3 separate regions of the Homo sapiens genome follow, and regions 1 and 2 are each linked to region 3. The links come from fine-mapping of genetic effects on gene expression. A gene starts in region 3. Each other region holds a variant in brackets. All regions are shown on one strand. Distances are between the middles of the regions. Region 1 overlaps ZC3HAV1 (zinc finger CCCH-type containing, antiviral 1). Region 2 overlaps ZC3HAV1 (zinc finger CCCH-type containing, antiviral 1). Region 3 holds the start of ZC3HAV1 (zinc finger CCCH-type containing, antiviral 1).

The links. PIP is the estimated chance that this variant, and not a neighbour inherited with it, causes the effect.
Region 1: its variant is the best candidate, but not a certain one, in a credible set for the expression of ZC3HAV1 in whole blood (TOPMed, PIP 0.88).
Region 2: its variant is the best candidate, but not a certain one, in a credible set for the expression of ZC3HAV1 in whole blood (TOPMed, PIP 0.88).

What each region holds. Positions count from the first base shown.
Region 1 is chr7:139,047,355-139,052,929 of GRCh38, forward strand. ZC3HAV1 (zinc finger CCCH-type containing, antiviral 1) reads right to left here. Exons shown (of 13, transcript NM_020119.4): 13 at 1-499. The coding sequence ends at 240. It also overlaps the pseudogene RPL17P28. Among named protein-coding and RNA genes, the nearest start is that of MIR10399, 6.0 kb to the left of the region's middle. The variant G/A (reference allele first, on the strand shown) is at 2,110.
Region 2 is chr7:139,053,285-139,064,335 of GRCh38, forward strand. It overlaps ZC3HAV1 (zinc finger CCCH-type containing, antiviral 1), which reads right to left. Exons shown (of 13, transcript NM_020119.4): 9 at 7,752-7,854; 10 at 1,921-2,011; 11 at 681-811; 12 at 167-297. Among named protein-coding and RNA genes, the nearest start is that of MIR10399, 15 kb to the left of the region's middle. The variant C/T (reference allele first, on the strand shown) is at 3,556.
Region 3 is chr7:139,107,203-139,114,862 of GRCh38, forward strand. It overlaps ZC3HAV1 (zinc finger CCCH-type containing, antiviral 1), which reads right to left and starts at 2,518. Exons shown (of 13, transcript NM_020119.4): 1 at 1,822-2,518. The coding sequence starts at 2,129. RefSeq lists enhancers at 1,417-1,546, 2,127-2,226, 2,171-2,674, 2,467-2,626.

The DNA.
Region 1 (5,575 bases), 61 kb before region 3:
AACTGCCTGGCGCTGACGCCCAGAAATGATTTCATTGGCATGGGGTGCAACCTGGGCATCAGAATTTGTTTAAAACCTCCCAGATGATTCTAATATGTAGCAAAATTTGGGGACCACTGATCTAAGACATTAGATAACTGAGCAGGAAAATATAAAACTTTAACTCCTGTCTGCGGCAATTTAGTTCTGTAAAGGAACAGAATGGTTATGGCATCCTTCTGACGCTGTATTCATCGGTTCTAACTAATCACGCAGGCTTTGTCTTCAGTATATTCAATCACATATTGTGGGTAAACCTGATCTTTCTGAAAGATGACAAAAACGGAGGGATTCGATCTGGTATCCACACAGCTGTCGAACTGTGGAGGAGGGCTCGTGTACGTTATATTTCCTTCAGTAAACTTTCCAACCAGAACTTGGGCTACAAACATAACGACGTTTTTGGCATCATACGGGCAATTTTTGTGGGAATAGATGGCATCTTTTGCAAAGTAAATTCCTAGAAAGAATCAGAAAGAAAAGTTAAGAAATATTATAAAAGAAGGTATACAGTTTATAAGATTTGTTATATACAGTCAGATGGGTGTGGACTAAGCATATGTCAATAATACCTTACTGATATTTATAAACTTTCCTTTGCACTTAAAAACATGTTAATGATGCAGGCGAACTTAAATACAGTATATAACCCTATAGAAATGACTGAGGAATATTTGCTACAGTGCAGAGCTCATGCTGATAGTGTGAGCCATTGGGTGCAATGACCAAATGACAATGTCACAGTGGCCCAATTCATGCAATTCACCCAGTGTGAGCTGAATGAGCAAACTTGGAACTGATGAGTCAGTTGATGCTTCGTCCTCAACTCTAAAACAACCTCAGATAACGATTGCTGCTTCCATACACAGCAGACCAACAATTTCCTGCCAAGTTAAAATTTTTATTTTTATCATTGTCAAGTGCTACTCTGGGCAGGTGCAGTGGCTCATGTCTGTAATCCCAGCATTATGGGAGGTTGAGGCGGGTGGATCACATGAGCCCAGGAATTTGAGACCAGCCTGGGCAACATGGGGAGACTCCATCTCTACAAAAAATTTAAAAATTAGCCGGGCATGGTGGCGTGCACTTGTAATCTCAGCTACTCAGGAAGCTGAGGCAGGATTGATTGAGCCCAGGAAGTTGAGGCTGCAGTAAGCTAGGATCATACCACTGCACTCCAGCCTGGGCAACAGAGTGAGATTCTGTATCAAAAAATACTAATAATATTTTCTAAGAAAGCTACTCTGTCGTTTTAAAGACCATGAGTAGATATTGCAACTCCTATTTCCATGCAAGAATCAATAAGTAAAATGAATTGTTTTACTTGTGGTAACAAATGTTTAATATACTTCCCATCTACTTTGTTTTTGTTCTTTTTATCATTTTATAGTTAGATGTTTGAATTCCAGAAACATTGCTTATCCTGAATAGGTCAGATACTAGATATTCTGTGCAAATGATGTTCTACTATATTTAAAGTAAAATATGGAAGTCTACCTATACTGACCTACGACGTCCAATCCCACTCCCCTTCCCAAAACAGTTTATGGCTGGCGGGAATTCTTTCACACCTGTTTCTATGCATTCACATACATATATGTGCATATGGTGGTTTATGGTGGTTTACTTGTTCATAAATAGGATCATAATATATGAACTGTTCTACAACTTTTTTTTCCACTTTAGTCCTAGAAATCTTGCTATGTCAGTACATCCAACTCTCTCTCTCTCCTTTTTTTTTTTTTTTTTTCGTTGTTGTTGTTGTTGCTGCTGTTTTTGAGACAGGGTCTCTGTCACCCAGGCTGGGGTGCAGTGGTGCAATCTTGGCTCACTGCAGCCTTGATATCCTGGGCTCAAGCAATCTTCCCACCTCAGCCTCCCATTCTAATCGGTGCGAGGCAACAGCTCATTGTGGTTTTAATTTGCGTTTGCTTGATGATTAGCGATGTTGAGCATTTTTTCATGAACTCATTGGCCATTTGTATTTCTTCTTTTGAGAAATGTCTATTCAAGTCTTTTGCCCATTTTTGAAACTTTTATTTGCATGTATTTTACGCTGAATTTATTCCC[G/A]TGCTGTAAGTTTTTGCTTCTTCAGTATCTTCTAGGATAGCTTTTTCTTCTGTGCACCTCCTCTTCTGGTTTAGGAACACGGTGTGCTTCTTCAGGAAGATTGTCTCTATGTGGCAGGGGGAGCTTAGGCATGAGTTAATCCAACCATGAGCTCTGGAAGTCTGGTGGCACATCTTGGGTGCTTTGTGCGCCTGAATATCCTCGACGACCAGAGAATCTACAGCTCAACCCTTACGTTCAGCATTACTCTCTGCATTTTTAAGTGTGTACAGCAAGAATTCAATTCTTTTGGGGTCACAAACTGCGTGCCCAGCCCCACTGTTTGGTCTGGGCACTCCTACCAACTCCACCCTCGTAACGTTGGAATGGTACACATTGTTTCCATACAGTGACATCTTTCAGACATTTGCTGGCTTTTCATATAGGCGTACTCTTGATGGCCTGGGCAGTTTCATGGGTGTCCTTAGAGTGAACATGAAGATTTGAACCTCTTTATTTGCATGATTTCATGGAGTTTTCTGGGTCAAGTGAATAGTGAACCATTTTCACAGATCACCGCAGGCCACTTATGGGAACAGCTTGCACATTTTAAAATTGAGTTATTTGTTCTCTTGCTGTTGAATTGTTTAAGTTCCTTACATATTTTGGATATTAATCCCATATCAGATGTATGGCTTGCAAATATTTTCTCCCACTCTGTGGGTTTGTCTGTTCACTTTGTTAATTGTTTCCTTTACTGTGGAGAAGCTTTTTAGTTTGATGCTATCTCATTTGTCCATTTTTGTTTTTGTTGCATCAGTTTTTTTATATCACACTTATATAATCTGGAATCTATATTTTCTTTTTTTAAAATTCCCTTTATTGTGTTAAGAAAGTTCATTTCTATTCCTACATTTCTGAGTGCTTTATTTTTTTCTTTTTTGAGACAGAGTTTTCCTCTGTCACTGAGGCTGGAGTGCAGTGGCAGGATCTCAGCTCACTGCAGCCTCCCCTTCTTGTGATCAATCAACTCTCATGCCTCAGCCTCTCGAGTAGCTAGGACTACAGGCATGTGCCACCACGCCCAGCTAACTTTGTATTTTTATTAGAGATGGGGGGGTTTCACCATGTTGGTCAGGCTGGTCTCAAACTCCTGACCTCAGGTGATTCACTCACCTCGGCCTCCCAAAGTGCTGGGATTACAGGAATGAGCCACAGTGCCTAGCCTAACATTTCATTTTTTAGGATAAATATTTGTTTGAATTCTAACATAGGATAGACCTGTAAGAAACTGATGGGTTTTAATTTCACCTATCATATGTCACTTAAGATGGTTACTACATTTCCCATTTCCTCCAAACACTTCTAGGTAAGTTTCACTGATACATTTAAACTTAATAAACTTATGAAATCTCATCAATAAATTCATTCCCCAGCTTAAAACCTTTCATTAGTTTCCCATGCGCTTACAGTCAAGTTTAGCTCTTTATGGTCATACCTTGTTCCATTTCTCCCTTCTCCGCCATGTGGTGACTCTACAAGGCAGGGGAATCCTACTCTATCTCTATCCTTGGGAACACCTCTCTAGCTGGGTTAGTTGTCCACAGGACCTGTTCCTTTTTTTCTTTTTTCTTTTTTTTTTTTTTGAGACGGAGTCTCGGCTGGTGTGCAATGGCATGATCTCAGCTCACCGCAACCTCTGCCTCCCGGGTTCAAGCGATTATCCTGCCTCAGCCTCCCAAGTAGCTGGGATTACAGGCATGGGCCACTGCACCCAGCTAATTTTTGTATTTTTAGTAGAAACGGGGTTTCACCATGTTGACCAGGCTGGTCTTGAACTCCTGACCTCAAGTGATCTGCCTGTCTCGGTCTCCCAAAGTGCTGGGATTACAGGCGAAGCTGCCGCGCCTGACCTGGATCTGTTATTTTTCTCTATAGCAGCCCAACATTTGCAATCATTTAATTTTTTTTTTTTTTTTTTTGAGACAAAATGTTGCTCTGTCGCCCAGGCTAGAGTACAGTGGCACAATCACAGCTCACTGCAGCCTCAAACTTCTGGGCTCAAGCAATTCTCCCACCTCACCCTGCTGAGTAGATGGGACTACAGGCATGTGCCATCATGCCCAGGTAATTAAAAAAATTTGTTTGTAATTAAAACAAAAAATTAGATAAGGTCTCGCCATGTTGCCCAAGCTGGTCTCCAACTCCTGGGCTCAAGTGATCCTCCCACCTCAGCCTCCCAAAGTACAGGAATTACAGGTCTAAGCTACCATGCCTGGCCACAGTCATTTAATTAATTATGTAAGATAATTATGCAAAATGTGTTTGGGGCCATGTCTAACTTGTTCACCACTGTGTACCCACCATCTAGTGTACAGAAGACACTCAAAAATATTTGCTGACTGGCTGATTGACTTCTTGCCTTTTGGGGCAAGAATTGAATTTAATCCTAGTTGTATGAGTTGAACTCACTTTGAATCTGTGATAAACTATTACTTATTTCCTAAAGATGACTGATTCTTAGTTTTTTTTTTGTTTTTTTAATTTTCTAGTTTTTATTTATGAAGTTAATTCCCTCAAACATTAAGCTAAGTGTGAAGTGCAGTTTTTAGTAAGCTTGCTTATTAGTTAAAAATGGACAATAAACATTTACATTCATAAATATTTCTCTTTTTTTCTTTTTTTTTCATTTTATTGTTATTTTACTTTAAGTTTTAGGGTACATGTGCACAACGTGCAGGTTTGTTACATATGTGTACCTGCGCCATGTTGGTGTGCTGCACCCATTAACTCGTCACGTAGCATTAGGTATATCTCCTAATGCTATCCCTCCCCCCACCCCCCTCCCCTCTGGTTTGTTTGTTTTTAAGAGTTGCATGCAGGCCAGGCGCAGTGGCTCACACCTGTAATCCCAGCACTTTGGGAGGCCAAGGCAGGCAGATCCCCTGAGGTCAGGAGTTCTAGACCAGCCTGACCAACATGGAGAAACCCAGTCTCTACTGAAAATACAAAATTAGCTGGGCGTGGTGGCACATGCCTGTAATCCCAGCTACTTGAGAGGCTGAGGCAGGAGAATCACTTGAACCAAGGAGGTGAAGGTTGCAGTGAACCGAGATCGAGCCATTGCACTCCAGCCTGGGCAATAAAAGCGAAACTCTGTCTCCAAAAAAAAAAAAAAAAAAAAAAAGAGTTGCATGCATCCAGGAGCAGTGGCTCATGCCTGAAATCCCAGCACTTTGGCAGGCCAAGGTAGGCGGATTATTTGAGCTCAGGAGTTGAGACCAGCCTTGGCAACATGGCGAAACCCTGTCTCTATAAAAAATACAACAAAAAAAAATTAGCTGGATGTGGTGGCACACACCTGTTGTCCCAGTTACTTGAGGGGCTGAAGTTGTAGGATCACTTGAGCCCAGGAGGTTGAGGCTGCAGTGAGCCGAGATTGTCACCCAAACTGGGTGACAAAGTGAGACCCTGTCTCAAAAAAAAA
Region 2 (11,051 bases), 52 kb before region 3:
TCTCATTTGGGCATTTGATATTACCGTGAGCTTACTGTCTCTCCAGGACCACTAGAGCCTGGACACTCTGGTTAATACAAAATAATTACATATACCTCCTAATAGAAGCACATATAAAGCCCGAGTTATGACTCTACTAGTTACGCTTCTCTATCCCGGCACTAACCTTTTCCGTATTTGTTTTCATGAGTTTCATGTAGGAAACTGTCAAAATTATTCGAACAGATAGATTCCACATAGGCACGGCTTGTCGCATAAAATAGGAGTTTTCCTTCTTCCTTCATCTGCGATTTCTTCCTAATATAAGAGATGTGAGACTTAACACGGAGACATCCCCTTCCCACTCCAGTTGATAACATTAATCCCAGCTAAAGTCTAATCATCTAAAAATTTCACTCCATCAGCTTTCACAACGGAGCTACTAACTTTAAGGCAGCAGCTGTACAATAATAAATTTATGAAAACTTTTAAAAGATAGACACATGAAATCATTGAATTGTAAAGCAGTAAGGCTGAGAGAGAGAAGCCAGAGTTGATAGAATGAAAAAAAAAAAAAAAGACTAGCGCCTAAAGGAACTGTTAACTACTAAAATAAATCAGTGAATATAAATCTCAAAGGACGGATATTAACTAATCCTTTCCGGTTTTATGTAAAGAAACACGATAACGTGGCCACCAACCATGTAAATTTATCCAGGAGCTCTGAGTTCTCGATCTTCTTTATCTTTTCAATCTTGAAATTTTTCATGGAAGCTTTAAAATGCTCACTTACTCTGACATATTCTGGATGTAGGTGATGGATCTCTGACAACTAATAAAGTTTAAAAATAGATAAATGTGAAATAGGAAACATTTAAAGCATGATACATCCACATATGTGCCCCCTTATGCCATGAAGTATTGTTACCAGGGTTCTTTCTAACAGCAGATAGGATGAGCTGGCTTAGGGTTCCCACATCTGCCAACTCATTCCCGTAATTAATCAGAGAGGCAGCGGGCCTGTCTGTCCAGGCCAACTGAAAGCTAGCAAAGCACTGTGCCTAAGGGAAAAGGGAAGTCCCCTGCAGTCTGAGTTAGTCCAGTAACCTCTTCCCAATGCAAGGGAAGAGGAATTGAGGTGCCATGCAGTCCAAGCAGACCAGCCTGCACAAAAGCTGAAGCCAGCATGGGGAGGCTAAGCAATCTAGGAATAGTTGTGATCCAACTAGGTTAAGTGACACAGTGAGGCACAGTTTGTTTGACTCCCATAGAAACTTGTTAATTGTAACTAACGGACAAGTCACTTTTACTCTGTGAGTTCTAGTTTTCTTGTCCATAAAATAGAGATGTTAATATCCATTTCACATGGCTGTTGCGAGGATCTGCCCAAATGAGACTGTGTGTGGCTGAACTCTGGAAACAATGAGGTGCCTTGTAGCAGTTAGGTGATCTCTGGGAAAGAGAACCATTAGATGACTGCCTTTCTACCTTGATCTAAGAGTGTTTGTTGTTGTTGTTTGTTTTTTGGAGACAGAGTCTCACTCTGTCGCCCAGGCTGCAGTGCAGTGGGCAGGAGTGCAGTGGCGCGATCTCGGCTCGCTGCAACCTCCGCCTCCCGGGTACAGGCAATTCTCCTGTCTCAGCATCCCAAGTAGCTGGGACTACAGGCTCATGCCGCCATGCCCGGCTAATTTTTTTGTATTTTCGGTAGAGACAGGGTTTCACCGTGTTGTCCAGGCTGGTTTCGAACTCCTGAGCTCAGGCAATCCACTCGCCTCGGCCTCCCAAAATGCTAGGATTACAGGGCTGAGCCACTGCACCCAGCCGATCTAAGAGTTTTGCGGGAGCAATTCATTCATCCAGACAAACACATACACTTGTAGCAAAGTACTTTTTCTAACTTTTAACAGACTCATCCACCAAACATGTAAAACCAAGTACCTTATATTTCTTTGAGGATAGGAAGCAAAAGTCCTCCTGAGGACGAAAGGTCGCAGTTAAAGACACTGACGAGGTCTTTGCTGGCTGATGGCTACAAATAAAGAGAAAGAATTCACTTAACTCTCTGCTCCACAGGCCCAAGTGATGTTTTCTCTTAACTTCCAGCCACTAGGCCAAGGATGCCTAGAGAAATACACAATATTTATTTCTGTATTTTTCTCTGGACTACATCCTCACATATTCCTGGTATAGATGTACCAGTAATCATGTCTTTTAAAAATGCTGCAACTATTCATAATCGGTCAATTAAATGCCATTTTCCTATTGACTTAAAATGTAAAAGTATTGACTCTTTTTTATATTTCTGCTCAACTTTCAAAGGTCCTAATGTGTTAGCATTAAGCAAATGTGTCTTACAGCTTCTTGGTCAAAGGATAAACGATTAAATATATTAGGAATTTAGAGGAAAGAATTCTGCCTTTCCAGTATGAACTGTATTTCAGGGTAACCATACCTGAGAAGTAATTTTCTTTTTCTATCCCATAGAGCTAAAGCTACCAGAAAAATTCTTCTTTATAGATGAATCACACTAATAGTTGCAAAAGAGTTGATAGAATTAGAAAACCACCATTTGGCAATACTTAATGACATCATGGTTCTAAACAATCATTATCATTAGCTACTAAAACCATTAAGTGAAAGATCAGATGAATAGTATAGTGGAATGATCAGACTGGAATGACCTGAACCTACTCTGTGATCTCCATCACTAAAAATAGGACAATCAGACACTGTATATCTCTTCATAAGATGGGACAGAACCACTGGTACGAAGCCATCAATTGTATAGCATACTTGACTCAAAACTGAACCTAAATCTAATCAGTTCCCTAAATCTAATGATCAATTTATAGAAATTACACATCAAATGACCCCATGAGGAAACAATTTGCTAATCTGTTTTGAGACAGAGTTTCACTCTGTCACCCAGGCTGAAGTACAGTGGTGTGATCATGGCTCACTATATCCTCAACCTCCTGAGCCCAAGTGATCCTCCCACCTCAACCTCCCAAAGTGCTAGGATTATAAGCATCAGCCAGCATGCCAGGTTAATTTTCTACATTTTGAATTTGGAAAATTCTATAGGTCAAATCACCTAGTCGTTGTTTTTATTGTTTTTTTTTTTTCCTTTTTCTTTTTCTTTTCTTTTCTTTTTTTTTTTTTTTGAGACAGTCTCACTCTGTTGCCCAGGCTGAGTACAATGGTGCAAAGACAGCTCAACCTCCTGGGCTCAAGTGATCCTCCCACCTCAACCTCTTGAGTAGCTGGGACCACAAGTGTGTACCACCACACCTGTCTAACTTTTTAAAAAGTTTTTGTAGAGATGGGGTCTCAACTCACCATGTTGCCCAGGCTGGTCTTAAACTCCTGGGCTCAAGCAATCCTTCTGCCTTGGCCTCCCAAAGTGCTAGGATTACAGGCATGAGCCACCACACCTGGCCTATCTGATTTCTTAAAAATGAAATTGCATGAAAAAAGTAGAGGAGGGGAAACTGTAGTAGACTAAAAGATATTTATGACACAAATCAACCAAACACAATGTACAGACCCTGCTTAGATACTGATTTGCAATAC[C/T]TCAACTCTAAATAGTCATTGTTTAAGACAATGGGAAAACATAAAACGTGAACTGGGTATTAGATGATATTAAGGAATTATCATTAACTTTGTTACATAGGTTAATGATATTGTATTATGTTTTTTAAAACCTCTTACCTGTTAGGAAGACACCTAATATATATACAGGGAAATGATAACATGTATTGGATTTACATTAAAATATTCCAGCAAAAGAAAAAAAGTTAGGCCAGGTGTGGTGGCTCATCCCTATAATCCCAGCACTTTGGGAGGCCGAAGCAGGAGGATTGCTTGAGCTCTGGAGTTTAAGACCTGCCTGAGCAACACAGTGGGATCCCCCTCCCCATCTCTAGAAACATTTTTTTTAAATTATCCAGGTGTGGTGGTGCACGGCTGTAGTTGCAGCTACTCAGGAGGCTAAGGCAGGAGAATCACATGAATCCAGGTGTTTGAGGCTGCAGTGAGCCATGATCACACCACTGCACTCTAACCTGCATGCAGAGTGAGACTCTTTCTCAAAGAAAAAAAAAATTTAGAGGTGATGGTAGTAACAATATTGTTACCACTACTACAAATACGTTACAAAGATAGTAAAATATTGACAGTGTTTAAGTTGGATGATAGGTACTCAGGGGTTTATTATCAATTCTTTGTACTTTATGTTTGAAATTTTCCATGATCAAAACAATTACATTTTTTTTTTTTTTTTTTTTTTTTGAGACGGAGTCTCCCTCTGTTGCCCAGGCTGGAGTGCAGTGGCGCGATCTCGGCTCACTGCAAGCTCCGCCTCCCGGGTTCACGCCATTCTCCTGCCTCAGCCTCCCGAGTAGCTGGGACTACAGGCGCCCGCCACCACGCCCGGCTAATTTTTTTGTTATTTTTAGTAGAGATGGGGTTTCACCGTGTTAGCCAGGATGGTCTCGATCTCCTGACCTCGTGATCCGCCCACCTCAGCCTCCCACAGTGCTGGGATTACAGACGTGAGCCACCGCGCCCGGCCAACAATTACATTTTAAAAAATAAATGCTTGAAGGAAAAAACTCTTTAAAGAAGAAGGTGACTCATTAGAATGAGAAAGATTGGCCCCAGTTTATCTCTATTTTAAGGTCAGGTTTCCATTCTGGATTTGTATAACATGGGATAGACTGAATGAATATGTTGTAAGATGCCCATGAACAGTGACGTGTGCCGTAGTTCACTTCTATGTCCCACTGTAGTTCAGGATAGTACCCCAGCCCTTATTCTATCCTACAGCAAGTGTGTCTCCTTGGGCTAGTGAGAGCAGGATTAAATTTGGTTCTCTGCATGACCCACCCCCCACCCTCCCCCACTAACATGTTTTTCTAATTTATTTTTTTTATTCATGTGGCTGTTTATTATCACTATGTGCCATGCATTATACAAACTATTCCAAGACAGCCTGGGCAACCTGGAGAAACCGTGTCTCTATTAAAAAATAAAAAAATTAGTCAGGTGTAGCGGTGTGCACCCATAGTCCTAGTTACTTGGGTGACTGCAGTGGGAGGATCACCCGAGTCCGAGAGGTTGAGGCTGCAGTGAGCTGTGATTGCGCCACTGCACCCCAGCAACCTAACCCCCAACCCCCCCCCCCCCCACAAAAAAACACCAAAATATTTCAAGAGCTCTGAGGAGCTGATAATTGAGGTTGGTGGGGAGGGAGGGGGAAGGGAGGAGGAGGGAAGGTTGTGCTAGAGACATTTACATAAGTAACTGTATTACAAGGTAGAAGTGGGTAAGTACTATAAGGGAATCTCGAGTGTTGGAGAATTGGAGGAGAATCACAAGGAATGTTATAGTATGGGAAAGTGGCATTCCAGCTAAATCGTGAGGGGTGCTGTATTCATGTGAATGACGGGAAGGAGTATTCCTGGAGAGGGGAAGAGCAAATGGAAAAGCACGAAGCAACTCTGACATATGGAAGTTCTTGAGATCGACAATGGCTGACTACAGGAGCTATCTGGAAATGCCACAAAGCAATTTTTTCCCCTAGAAATACATGTGCACAGAAAGAACCATCCAGCTTGGCGTCAAGGTTTACTATGCTTTCCACAGTTCCTGCTGTCTGGAAGGGCCATAAAGCATGGTCTCACTAGTTGAGACTAACTGGGAGTATCTGAATTGTTAAAAAATCAAAATTACCGGAACTTTAAAAAAAAAAATGCAGTTTTGTTGCTTTAAGGAAAGACAGTTCCAACACACTTTTGTGAAGACATCCTGCCAGAACGATTGTAACGATTGTAACGAATGGAAAGCAGCTCTGATGATCTCATTCATTGGCTGAATGTGAACAGCCCCTCCCCATCCTCCTACTCTGCCTTTTTCCCCCACCTAACATTTGTCAGGAACTGAAATAGTTATTGCCTCATCCACCAGAATGTAAGCTCCCGTGAGGGCATGAGATTTACTCCTCTCTTCCCTAAACCCTGAAATATTCTTTTTACTTTATTAATTTGAATATTTAAACTACAGGAAGGGGCCAAGTGCAGTGGCTCATGCCTGTCATCCCAGCACTTTGGGAGGCTGAGGCAGGTGGATCACCTGAGGTCAAGAGTTCGAGACCAGCCTGGCCCTCACGGTGAAACCCTGTCTCTATTAAAAATACAAAAATTAGCTGAGCATAGTGCCATGTGCCTGTAGTCCCAGCTACTCAGGAGGCTGAGGCAGGAGAATCACTTCAACCAGGGAGGCAGAGGTTGCAGTGAGCCGAAATTGTGCCACTACACTCCAACCTGGGTGACAGAGTAAGACTCTGTCAAAAAAAAAAAAAAAATTTACTGAAAGGGACTTTAGATAGCTACACCAATCAGATTCTAATTCTTGGGAAATCAACTTGAGAAATTCAGAGAAAATTAGGCAGTTAGTGGCAGAAGATAAGGCTGAAGAGATATGCAGGTTGGAATTATGAATTAGAATTAAGTCAACTTAATTATATATATAGTTACTAAGTCTATTAATAGCAGGGGAATAAAAATAATAATAACCAGAGCAGTTAACATTTTCTGAACACCTGATCAGTGTTCGGAATGTGTTACCCAAGCAACCGTGAGGAAGGTATTATTATTAAGCCCATTTTACAGATGAGGATATACAGAGTGATTCATTTGTCCAAATCCACACAGCTAATGGGTGGCAAGGTGGAATTTGAACCTAGGTGAGCTAGATCCAGCATCCAGGCTGTTAACCTGGTCCCAAGAAAGAATCTTTGACTCTAGGCTGCTGCAGTTCTAAAGCAGAATAGGAAGCAACTCCCCTTCCTGAGGCCCTGATATAGCTCAGTTTCCATTCTTAGATTCTTGCGAGTTGTTTTCCATATGACTTCATAGTTATTTATCTTTTTAGTAACTTCCTTTTTCATCAAATAGCTTGAATTCTTACAACCAAAAGAACCTAGTTAGAACACCTTGATTTTATACTTCTCTTGAAGCCTGTTTTATGTAATCACACATCACCCAGAAAAAAAATATCCAACTCCAAAAATGTTCATGAACAATGTAGAGTTTACTGAGCAGTTCACAAGGAGAGTTACAATGAATCCCCCACAGCAACATTTCCTTTAAAATCCCTTCAATCAATATTATCTCTCACCAAAACCCTTGCTCTAACAGCTAGCTCATCCCTTTTTTCTATCTCTTTCTCCGCCCCTCATCCTCTATAAATCGTGTAGGAAAACAAAAGACACCCAAAAGAATCCACAGCAAAGCCAGGCACGGTGGCTCATGCCTGTAATCCCAGCACTTTGGGAGACTGAGGTAGGAGGATCACTTGAGCTCAGGAGTTCAAGACCAGCCTGGGCAACAAAGTGAGACCCCCTCTAAAAAAAAAAAAAAAAAAAAGAATCCACAGCAAAACAAAAACCCAGTATATATGATTATTCCTTAGGTGTACTGCATCAATCCAGCTCTTCACAGCTGGAGAAGCTAAAGCCCAGAGTATTTAGGAGACTCGCTCAGACTTCCCTTTCAGAAAGAAAATTCATTTTCCGATCTAGTATCCTTTCAGTCACACCATGCTGCTTAACAAGCATCTTACTCATCGATAATGCAAATGGAAACTGCAGAGTAATGCAAACAGGAACTTTTCAGGAAAACAGGCTCCAGATTCACGAGTGACTTGATGAGCCCAGGGCATGAACATCTCAAGCATCTGTCAGCAAACAGCTGCTTCAGAACACTTACTCTGGCCCTCTCTTCATCTGCTGCACATACCACTGAGGCACAAATGTTGGTCTTCTGATGACATCCTTTTGAGTTTTGGAAGCTATGTTTGTCTGAATCATCCCTTTGGACAGAAAAAAAAATAAAAGCAGTGAGAATCAAGATCAGCCCTAGAAAATGACTTCTTGTTATTTTGCAGAGGCTATTTACACGGCAAATATTCAAGACTGACCTGTATGTATACGAATAGAGAAAATCCTTTGGGATGAGAATTGCTCACAGTAAAAGACTTGTATCCTTCACTGCCATTAGTAGAAGGCTCAAAGCAAAGGAGTGAATGAATATTCAGGAATTAATCTCATCTTTAAATCCAAGTTGGATGGTAAAAGAGGAGAGCTGGGGCAGCCAAATAACAAGACACCATCCTTTCAAGCTTCCCTACACCAGACATCAGTGATTACGGGTTGGAATCTGGTAGCTGTCTTGAAGGGTTCTTTTCTACATCAAGTGTGAAATATCATTTTCAATTCATGCCGTAAACCTCAGTCCAAACTGTAACCAGAGTGAACCCTTCAGAAAGTAAGTCATAATACATTGCTAGTGAGAGTGTAAAATGAAACCACCACGTTGGAAAACAGTTTGGTGGTTTCTTATACAGTTAAATATGCACTCCTATGTGATTTAGCAATCCCATTTCTGGGTATTTACCCAAGAGAAATGAAAACCTGTATCCACACAAAGATGTGCACGTGAATGCTCACAGCAGCGTTATTATGATAACCAAAAAGGAGAAATAACCTAAGTGTCCATCAGCTGGTAAACAAATAAACTATGGAATAGCCTTACAATAACTTATTACTTATTCCTCAGTGATAAAAGAGGAACAACTACTATACATGCAACAACGCGGTTGAGTCTAAAAAACATTATTCCAGAGTGAAAGAAGTCAGCCACATGCAATGTGCCTACTGCAAGCGTTTATTAATATCAAATTCTAGAACAGGTAAAACAGGGACAGAAAGCAAATCAGCAATAGCCTGTGATGGGGATAAAGTGAGGTGTATGTGGTGTTGCTGGGGAAACTGATTGCAAAGAGACATAAGGAAACTTTCGGGATTGATGGAAATGTTCTATATCCTGCTTAGGGTGGTGGTTACACGCATTTGTCAATACTCATCCAACTGCACTCTTAAAATATGAAACAAACATAAACCACACACACACACACACACACACAAAGCAAATCAGATCATGCCACAACACTGCTCAAAATCTTCCCGGGACCTCCGCCTAATAAAATATCCAAGTTTCTATCACTGCTCTCATCTCTTACAGACCATCTACCTGTTCTGTGAAACTTCAAGCTGGTCTGTACCTTCCAGCCTTAGCCTTAGTTCTTCCTCCTCCTGGAGCGCCCTCCTTCCCACAGGCAGAGGCTGGTCTATAAAAGTAAGTGCTGTCCCACTGACTCCTCCATTTTCTGGCTGCTTCCTTGCACTGTTTCATTTTCTCCACCGTTTCATTTTCTCAGTAACTGTTACCACTTTCTGAAATGGCCTGACTTGTTTACTTGACCATTGTCTCTCACCACCCTTTTGAATACAGGCTCGAAGAGCAACTTCATCACTGTATCCCAGCACCCACAACAGGAGCCAGTACACAGCTGGCACTCAGATACTAGCTTAATGCATGACAGAATACACTTGCAGTCTAGTTCAGGAATAGAAAAAGGCGGACGGGTGCAGTGGCTCACGCCTGTAATCCCAACACTTTGGGAGGCTGAGGCAGGTGGATCACGAGGTCAGGAGTTTGAGACCATCCTGGCTAACACAGTGAAACCCCATCTCTACTAAAAATACAAAAAATTAACCAGGTGTGGTAGCACACACCTGTAGTCCCAGCTACTTGGGAGGCTGAGGCAAGATAATTGCTTGAACCTGGGAGGCAGAGGTTGCAGTGAGCCGAGATTGCGCCTTTGCACTCCAGCCTGGTGACAAAGCGAGACTCTGTCTCAAAAAAAAAAAAAAAAAAAAAAAAGAAAGAAAGAAAGAAAAAGAAAAGAAAAGAAAAAGCCATCTGGAACACTAGGAACCCATAAATTGCTCTGAACTGGTTTCTATGAACCAAACAAACAGAAGTAGCTGGACAAATTGCTCTAGATTCAGGAACAAAGTCTATTGGCTCTCATCTCTCCACCACCCTTTTAAACCATAAAAACAATACAATACCACCTAAGAATTTTTTTAATTTAAGTCATTTTTAATTCTACCACCCAATAGAAGAGATTTTAATTTTTCTTTATTATCTTCCAGTCGGCCCACATGCATGCATTGCTGCAATTATCATGCACATTGATTTTTGTGTTTTTTTTAACTTTCCTATTTTAAATATAAACAAAATTTCAGAAACATAAATTTGGGGTTCTGGCTGAGCACTATGGCTCATGCCTGTAATCGAAGCATTTTGGGAGGTTGAGGTGGGAGGATCGCTTGAGCTCAGGAGTTTAAAATCAGCCTGGGCAACAAAGTGAGATCCCCATCTGTACAAAAAAATTTTTAAATTAGCTGGGCATGGTGGCATGAACCTATACTCCCAGTTAGTTGGGAGGCTGAGGTGACAGGATCGCTTGAGCCAGGGAGGTTGAGGCTGCAGTGAGCCGTGATGGCATCACCGCACTCTAGCCTGAGTGATGGCGTGGGACCCTGTCTCAAAAAAAAAAAAAAAAAAAAAAAGTGTTCTGCCTTTTTCATTTAACAACACCAAATTTTGCTCTTCCTATCTAGTTTTCATAATCAAAATCTTTAACAAGTGCCAGATACGCCACTGAAATTTAATACCCTAATTTATTTAGTCACCACTGCACTGGTACAGACTGGTCCTACTTTTAGTACTATAGGTACTGGTTTTGGTCTAGTATTCTTCGGTCACACCATGCTGCTTAACAAGCACCTTACTTTATGCCTATAGCTTTTCTCCCCCCTTCTTCTAGTGAATTATTTCCTAAGAAAGGTTCCTAAGGGAATGAAAAGACAAACATATTAGCATATTTTAATGTCACTTGACATGTACTGCCAGACTGTTTTTCCAAATACTTGGTATAATGGTCCTTGTAAAAGCTACGTCATCTAAGGCCCACTAAGCGGTACAGGATCCAACTGCAGGTACCATCTGCGAATTCAGGGACCTCAGAAAGGCTCCTTTACCTCTTCCAAAGCACCTGCAAGTCCCGAAAGGGCAAGCACTTGATCATGTGCAGGGGGTGCCCAATGGGATGGTACCTTCAGAAGGAGGGCAGTTCCTGCCCTGATATCTAACTAAACA
Region 3 (7,660 bases):
AGAGATTTCTTCAGTGACCAGCAATGACTTAGATGATTTCCTCGATACCCATAACTCCCAGCAACTCAGAAACAACCTTCAAATTGTTGCCCCACAACATATTAAAGAAAATTTTAAATAAAGGAACACATTCAAGCACTTTTTAAAAACGTTAGAGTGAGCTGAAAGGGTTTTTGCTCTAAAGAAATTTTTAAAAAAATACATTGCGTCCTCTACCTCATCCATCTAAAACACTTACCTTTGTGTGTTTTATTACACGTATATTGGGGGTGAGTGACTGGAGTTTTTGTTAGGTGCGTGATCAAAAGTTTGCCGACTGGTCGGACTTGGTGGCTTATGCCTGTAATCCCAGCACTTTGGGAGGCTGAGACAAGTGGATCACCTGAGGTCAGGAGTTCGAGACCAGCCTGGCCAACATGGTGAAACCCTGTCTCTACTAAAAATACAAAAATTGGCCGGGTGCGATGGTGCATGCCTGTAATCCCAGCTACTCGGGAGGCTGAGGCAGGAGAATCGCTTGAACCTGGGAGGTGGAGGTTGCAGTGAACCGAGGTGGAGCCACTGCACTCCAGCCTAAAAAGTTTGCTGACAACCATTTTAAACCCTGGGACACAAGTCAAAGTGTTTAAGAATGGGCCAAGTGTAAAAAGTACTGTATCGAGAAAAGTAATTGAGCAGAGCACATAGTGACAGAAAGGGTGGGAGGAAAGACTGGCCATTCATTAATTCAACAAGGCGTTCATTCAGTTCATTCAGAAATTAGATGGGAAGGCAGAATCCGCCAAGAAGGGAAAGAGACTTCACAAAAAGGACTTGGTGATGACAGATTGTGAGGAGGATTAAAACCCTGCCTGGGGGAAAAGATGAGTTTGACTCCATGGACAGGACACACGCGGGAGAGGAAGGGCTTGGGATCAAGGGAAAGGCCTGGGCAGCGAATGTGGACCTGGAAGCCATCTTTTTAGATGTGCAGCTGTCCTCGAGGGAGCAAGCTCTCTTAGGGAGAAACTGGGAAGAAAATCACTCAAGAGTCTTAACCCAAACCTTGCAGCGCATCTGCATTTAGACGAAAAAAAAAAAAGGCAAACGGAAACAACAGAAGCAGTGGCCCGAGACGTGAGCCACACTGCTTCAAAGGGATTTAAGAGAGTTGTCCCAAGGCAGGCGGTCAACTGCGCGCGCCACCGTAGAGAGACCACCCGGAGGGAAGGCCCGCGGCTGCTACAACTTCAGGAACCTGGAAAAGGGCCACCCCTGCTACGCGCCAGGCATCAGAAAAGCGGTGATGAGGGGCATGGGGGTGACCGGGAAGGGAGGGACAAGCAGAGAGACCTGCGGCTCGCTCCGGCGGAGACGGACCGGGGGCCCAGGGCGGCTGGGTTACTGGCTCCGCCACGTCTAGGGAAGGAGGTAGTAGGGAGGGAAAGACTCAAGATACCAAAGACGGGAGGCTCTTTCCTTCCTTCCCAAACCTGCCTACCGCTTCTCTAGGCCCTGGCTGGCTCCAGAGCACTTTATTCTTCTGATTCGTGCGGGCGGGCGGGGAAAGGGGTGGAGGTTGAGCCTGGTCTCCTCCAGGCACTAGCATTTTAGCCATTCTCGAGAAAATGTCTGGAGGTGCCGGAAGGAAGGGAACTGCAAAGGTAGAAGCGCGGGCCCTGCAGAGGCTCCCAGAGGGGAGCAGAGAAGGGAGTGGCTGGAGGCGGAGGCTGTCAGGTGCGGGGTCCCGGCGAAGCCGTGCCCCTCCCAGAACATTGCCCGCCTGGACAGTCCACCCCGACCACGGCTGCGGACAGCGCCCCTCCCTCCGGGTGCACTCACCGCTCGGACTGCGAATAGTTGCACCGGCCCAGCAAGTTGAGTTTGCAGAGATGCAGGTTATCGCAGGGTCTCTGGCAGTACTTGCGACGGCAGACCCGGGCTCGAGTGGTGGCCACCACCGATCGGGTGATCCCGGCCTCGCCGCCGGTCTCCAACACCACAAAGCGGTCGGGCCCGGCCACCTGCAGCACCTCACAGAGCTGCGGCTCAGACAGCGCGATCTCCTGGAGCAGCGCGTCCAGGGCCATGCGGCCCCCGTGGGCGCACAGGATTTTGGTGATGAAGCAGCACACCTCCGGGTCCGCCATGGCGCGCTGGCTGTGCTGGCTCTGCCGCGGCGCGGGACTCGGTTCCGCGGAAATCGGAAATCGAAACTTACAAGTGTCCAGGGGCGGGCGCGGGCGGTGCTACTGCTGGGCGCGCCCGGAGTCAGCGAGGGCGCGCTCTCCGTCGCCGTTAGCCCAGCCCAGCGATCCACTCTCGGCTCTCAGGTCAAGAGGCTAGATCTCACCGACCGGGTCCTAGTGGCAGGTTTACAGCCGGCCGCAAGGGCAACTGGGTGGAAAGAAAGAGAACGCGCGGGCAAATCTGCTGGTGACCGCCTGGGGTGGCCCCCTCTCGGTTCTAGGCTCGGCGAGGGTGAGGTTCTCCAGCCGGGCTCCGCGAGCCTTCTTTAGAAAGAAGAGAAACTAAAAGCGATCTTGGGGCTCTGGCCGGTGTTTTATAAGCCAGCCGACTGAGGCGTGTGACGCAAGTCCTGAGAGCCCTGTTGAGGAGTGCGCACCCCACCCATTCCCGGAAAGAGCAGACCCTAGCGAGCGCTTCCTGCGAGCCGTGCGCTCTGCCTCTGTTGGTAGTGAATCTTCCCAGCAACTCCACATGGTAGATATTATTATCCTCACCCTGAACTTGAGGAAGTAACTTGCACGAACACGCACTGGCATCAAGCGGAGCCCAGATGCCACCGAGTTTCCCCAAATCGCGTCCCCAGGCCCCAGATCGTGGTACCCCAGGCCCCGATGTGCAAGTTTCTCCTCCACCACCGTGCCCTCTTAAAGAACAACGATTGCCACTCTCCCTCGTTTCTGCCTTCTCACGAACTTTTGGACAAACCACTTCTTGACATGGTCTTGCTTACCTAGAATCGCTAACTCGGTGCCCTGAACCACTGCTTGTACCTCAATCACGGTGGACATGCTAAGACATATCCCAAGATTTCAGATCGGTTCCTCCCCGTAGAGATTGGGACAAGAACTTTTCCACCGTGGGGACGTACTTTGACCCCCAGAGTTGACATAAAGATTGTTTTTAAGTGAAAACATTGAGCTACAGAAGATGTAGAAAGAAATCTTAATGAAACTTCCCTTATCTGACTAAAGCAAAACCTCCCGAAAACATGGTGCCATTAAAAGCCTCTCGGAGTATTCAGCTGCCAGGAAGACAGACTGTCCCATTACCATTAGCACCAAAAAACCCAATGGGCTGGGTGCTGTGGCTCAGCCCGTAATCCCAGCGCTTTAGGAAGCCGAGGCAGTGGGAGGATTGCTTGAACCCAGGAGTTCAAGACTAGCCTGGGCAACATAGTGAGCTCTCTTCAATAATAATAATAATAATAATAATAATAATAATAATAATAATAATAAAAACAACCCGGGCATGGTGGTGTGCAGCCGCAGTCCCAGCTACTCGGGAGCCTGAGGTGGGAGGATTGCTTGAGCACGGGAGGAGGCTGCAACGAGCCGGGATTGTGCCACTGCACTCCAGCCTGGGGGATAGCGCTGAGACTTTGTCTCAAAAACACAAAACAACCCAATCAAAACTTCCAAACTCTCCTACTGAAGCCCTAAAACTTTCCTTTTTGTTAAGTTGAGGTATATAAACCTTTACTTTTGAGTTTTCTGTTACTGGAAGCTCCTGCATGCATGTGTAAATAAACTTTGTCTTTTCTCCTATTTATCTGTCTAGTGCCAGTTAATTTTTAGGCCCCCAAAGACAGGACACAAGTTGAAGAGAAAAAAGGTTTTTTTTTCCAACATCTTCAAATAAAATAGATGGGTCATTTGATCAGATAAGAAATACATCTTTTTAAAAAATAATAGATTCTGGTTGCTAACTTAGAAATTCTTCAAAATGATTAATGAGAATTCTCCTCAGTTTTGTCATTCATGGTATATAAACCCTCTTTCAGGAATAGAGTACTTTGTTATGAAAACCAGCCAAACATGGGGGCCACATAGGATCATCTTAGGATGTCTAAGAGGGACATCTTGTTCCCTCTAGTTGCTGCTTCTATAGTTGTCTTTTAATCCACTTGGCCTTATTTGTGGTCTGACAGGTTCCCAGGGACCTTTTATTATCAAATCAACTAAGTTCTAGATGTTTATTGACTATCTTCTATGTGGTATTTACATTAGTTAGTAATGTAAGGACATGCAGAAGTTTAAAAAACAGTCCCTGCACTCAAGGAGCATGTATGCGAAGACATGAAAAAATGCATGGAAATATAAGCAAATTCATGGGTAAATGCCACAATGGGAATATAGAAGATGAGAGACTGAAGAGTCTAGTTTGGCTACAGTGGTTGGGAGTACAGACATAGAATCTCCTCCAATTTGAAGCCATGAAAAATGATTTAAGGGCCAGGTGCAGTGGCTTGTGCCTGTAATCCCAACACTTTGGGAGGCCAAGGCGGGAGGATCATGACCATCCTGGGCAACATACTGTGAGATCCACCTGGGCAACATAGCGAGACCTCATCTCCACTAAAAATAAAAATTAGCCAGACATAGTGGTATGTGCCTGTAGTCCCAACTACTTGGGAGGCTGCGGCGGGAGGATTTCTTGAGCCCGGGAGTTCAAGGTTGCAGTGAGCTACAATTGTGCCACTGCACTCCAGCAAAGGCAACAGAGGAAGATCCTTTTGGAAAGGGAAGAGAGGGAAAGGGAAAGGGAAACGGAAATGGAAAGTGACAGAGAAAGGGAAAGGGAAAGTGAAAATGAAAGAGAAAGGGAAATGGAAAGGGAAAGGGAGGGAAAGGAAAGAAAGGAAGGGAAAGGAAAGGAAGAGAAAGGAAAGGAAGGAAGGGAAAGGAAAGAAGGGAAAGGAAAGGGGAAAAGGAAGGAAAAGGAAAAAAAGGAAGGAAAAGGAAAAGGGGAAAAAAGAAGGGAAAGTGAAAGGAAAAAAGAAAGGGAAAGTGAAAGAGAAAGGTGATTTAAGGAGTTCTGGGAAGGGAAAAGGAGACATTTTGAAAAATTTTGAAATATGTGCCATCAGAGATTGGGTTCTCCAGGAAGGAGATCCTGACATGGAGTTAAGAGTGCAGAACTTTCTCTGCACTTTTTCTGGGGCATAATGCCAGAAAAAGTCAAAGGAAAAAGCATGATTGATCCATGGGGCCTATCAGACTTTTGTGCGGACCTAACAAAGTCTCTGCCAGCCCAATGAGGAGCTCTGGAGTAGGAGTCCAGCTTTGGACAGAAAAGGCTAGGCCCTTGTACTGCCTTGCTCAGTCACCGGTGGGGGCCACCAGAGAAGTGGATGACTTCAGCTCGAATGCTGGGGCAGATCTTGAAAGAGCTAAAGCTGGAGGATATTGGCTAAACATGCTCCTCAAAGCTGGGCTGCAAGCTTGACCTGAGTGCCACCCTGTGTCAGCTGTAGTCCACCCTTTGTACTACATGGCTTTCTTTATCCATTTGTATTTAGGGAACAGGCTTTTCAGGGTCACTCTTCCTACAAGGAAGCTTACCAGAGAGAAATTAGTGGAATGAACTATAGTCCTTGTCACTGCAGTTGGTCTCAAGGCCACAGCTGGTGGTCTGGTCCTCATCATATCCCTCTACCACTATCCATTCCAATCCCTCTCACCCTTGGCCACCACCTCAGCTGCTCTCAGTAGCTTAATCTGGTCGGGTGCCCTATTTGAAAGTGGTCTGAGCACATCTCAGTCCCAGCTGGGCAAAGGATTACCAAGAGACACCAAAATAGGTCACCAGAATTCCATACATATTCCACCTGCCCACATTGTGTAACAACAGCCACACCTCCTGCTGACCAGCAACAGTTACCTCGAATAAGATGGCCATTCCCTTTCTTACTTGCTAGTCTCTGACCATTAGGAGGCCAAAGTACCTGGTGACAGCCATCACAGTAGTCCAGTGGGATCTCTGTGGTATCTCCAGGCAAGAGTGTGCCCCTTTGGGGAACCAAGACCTATAACTCTGCAGAGCCCAGCATTGCTGGGAGAGGAAATTGCAGGGGGTCATTGGAATTATACTAAGTAGGGCCACTCAGGCTTACCCATTCTTTCCAGACTCATGTATGGACACAGTACCATACTAACTTGACCGATTCAAGGCATATACCACGATGTTCTGGAGTCTGTGTCATCATTGTAGGGTATCAGCTCCATTCTGGTGCTTGACTCCATCTTTAACTAGCCATTCCAATACTTCATCCTATAGCTACTGGGTGGTGAAGTGTATGATAGGACCATGGATAGTACCATGTTCATGGGTTCATTCCCTCCACTTTCTGTGCCATGAAAAGATTCACCTGATAAGATGCTATGTTAAGTGTGATTCCATGTCTGTGGATCGGGCAATCTTTAAGTCTCCAGAAAGTGGTGCTACTGGCCGGGCACGGTGGTTCAAGCCTGTAATCTCATCACTTTGGGAGGCTGAGGCAGGGGGATCACTTGAGGTCAGGAGTTCCAGACCAGCCTGACCATCATGGTGAAACCCTGTGTCTACTAATAATACAAAATTAGCCGGGTGTGGTAGCACACGCCTGTAATCCCAGCTATTTGGGAGGCTGAGGCAGGATAATCGCTTGAACCCAGAAGGCAGAGGTTGCAGTGAGCTGAGATCGCACTATTGCACTCCAGCCTGGGCAACAAGAGTGAAATTCCATCTAAAAAAAAAAAAAAAGAGTGCTACTACTGAGGCTCTGCAGGGAGGAAGGGCAACCCCAAATCCAGAATAACTGCCTCTTCTTGTGAGAACCACCGATGGTTCTGCCAGGACAAAAGGGGCCCGATGCAGTCTACTGGTCCCCAAGTAGTCTATTGGTCTCCTTAAGGAATAGAGCTTAGCATTGGTCTTTATGGCTGGCAGATCAGACACTCAGAGGTGGCAGTAGCTGTGTTTATTTTGGCAAATGATAATCTATGCTGTTAGGTTCTTGCATCGCTTCCATCTCCTGGCCACCATGGCCTCTTTGAGCAGCAGTGGGGGAGGGGGCCTGTCACTAAGCCTGGCCAACATTAACTGGCCAAGTTATTTTGTGTAGTTGGCACATCTTTTGTGGGTCTTAATGTGATATGAACTGCCCACTTCCATACATCTATTCATATGCTTCCTTTTACTTTTAGGCTCCCAAACTCCCAGCCAGGCCACCATCACTGCCCATGAGACCATGTATGTTCTAACCCTAGGCCATACTCCTTCCATACGAAGTGATGACTAGGTACACTCTCAAAGCTCCTCCCGCTGGGGAGATTTTCCCTTACCACTGTTTTTCAAGGACTTCCCTGAGTGAGACTGTAATATAGCTGCCATGCATTTTCAGCTTGTACCCACATATTAAGCTAGCCCATCCTTAACGCAAACTTGGTCTTTTTCCCTCCTCCTTTAGCTGGTTATATGGGACCCCCTCACATGACCACAGGTGAGGCTGGGGGAGGGGTGCTGGTGCAACCGTAGTGAATGACATGGAAATCTGGGCTAATTGCTCATGCAGCTTGAGTGTGCGTGTGCCCTCTGGTCCCACTTGTGTTCAGTCCCAGATGTACCAGTTTTATCCTATGATGGCTTTGATACTGACCCGCCCTGACCTTAT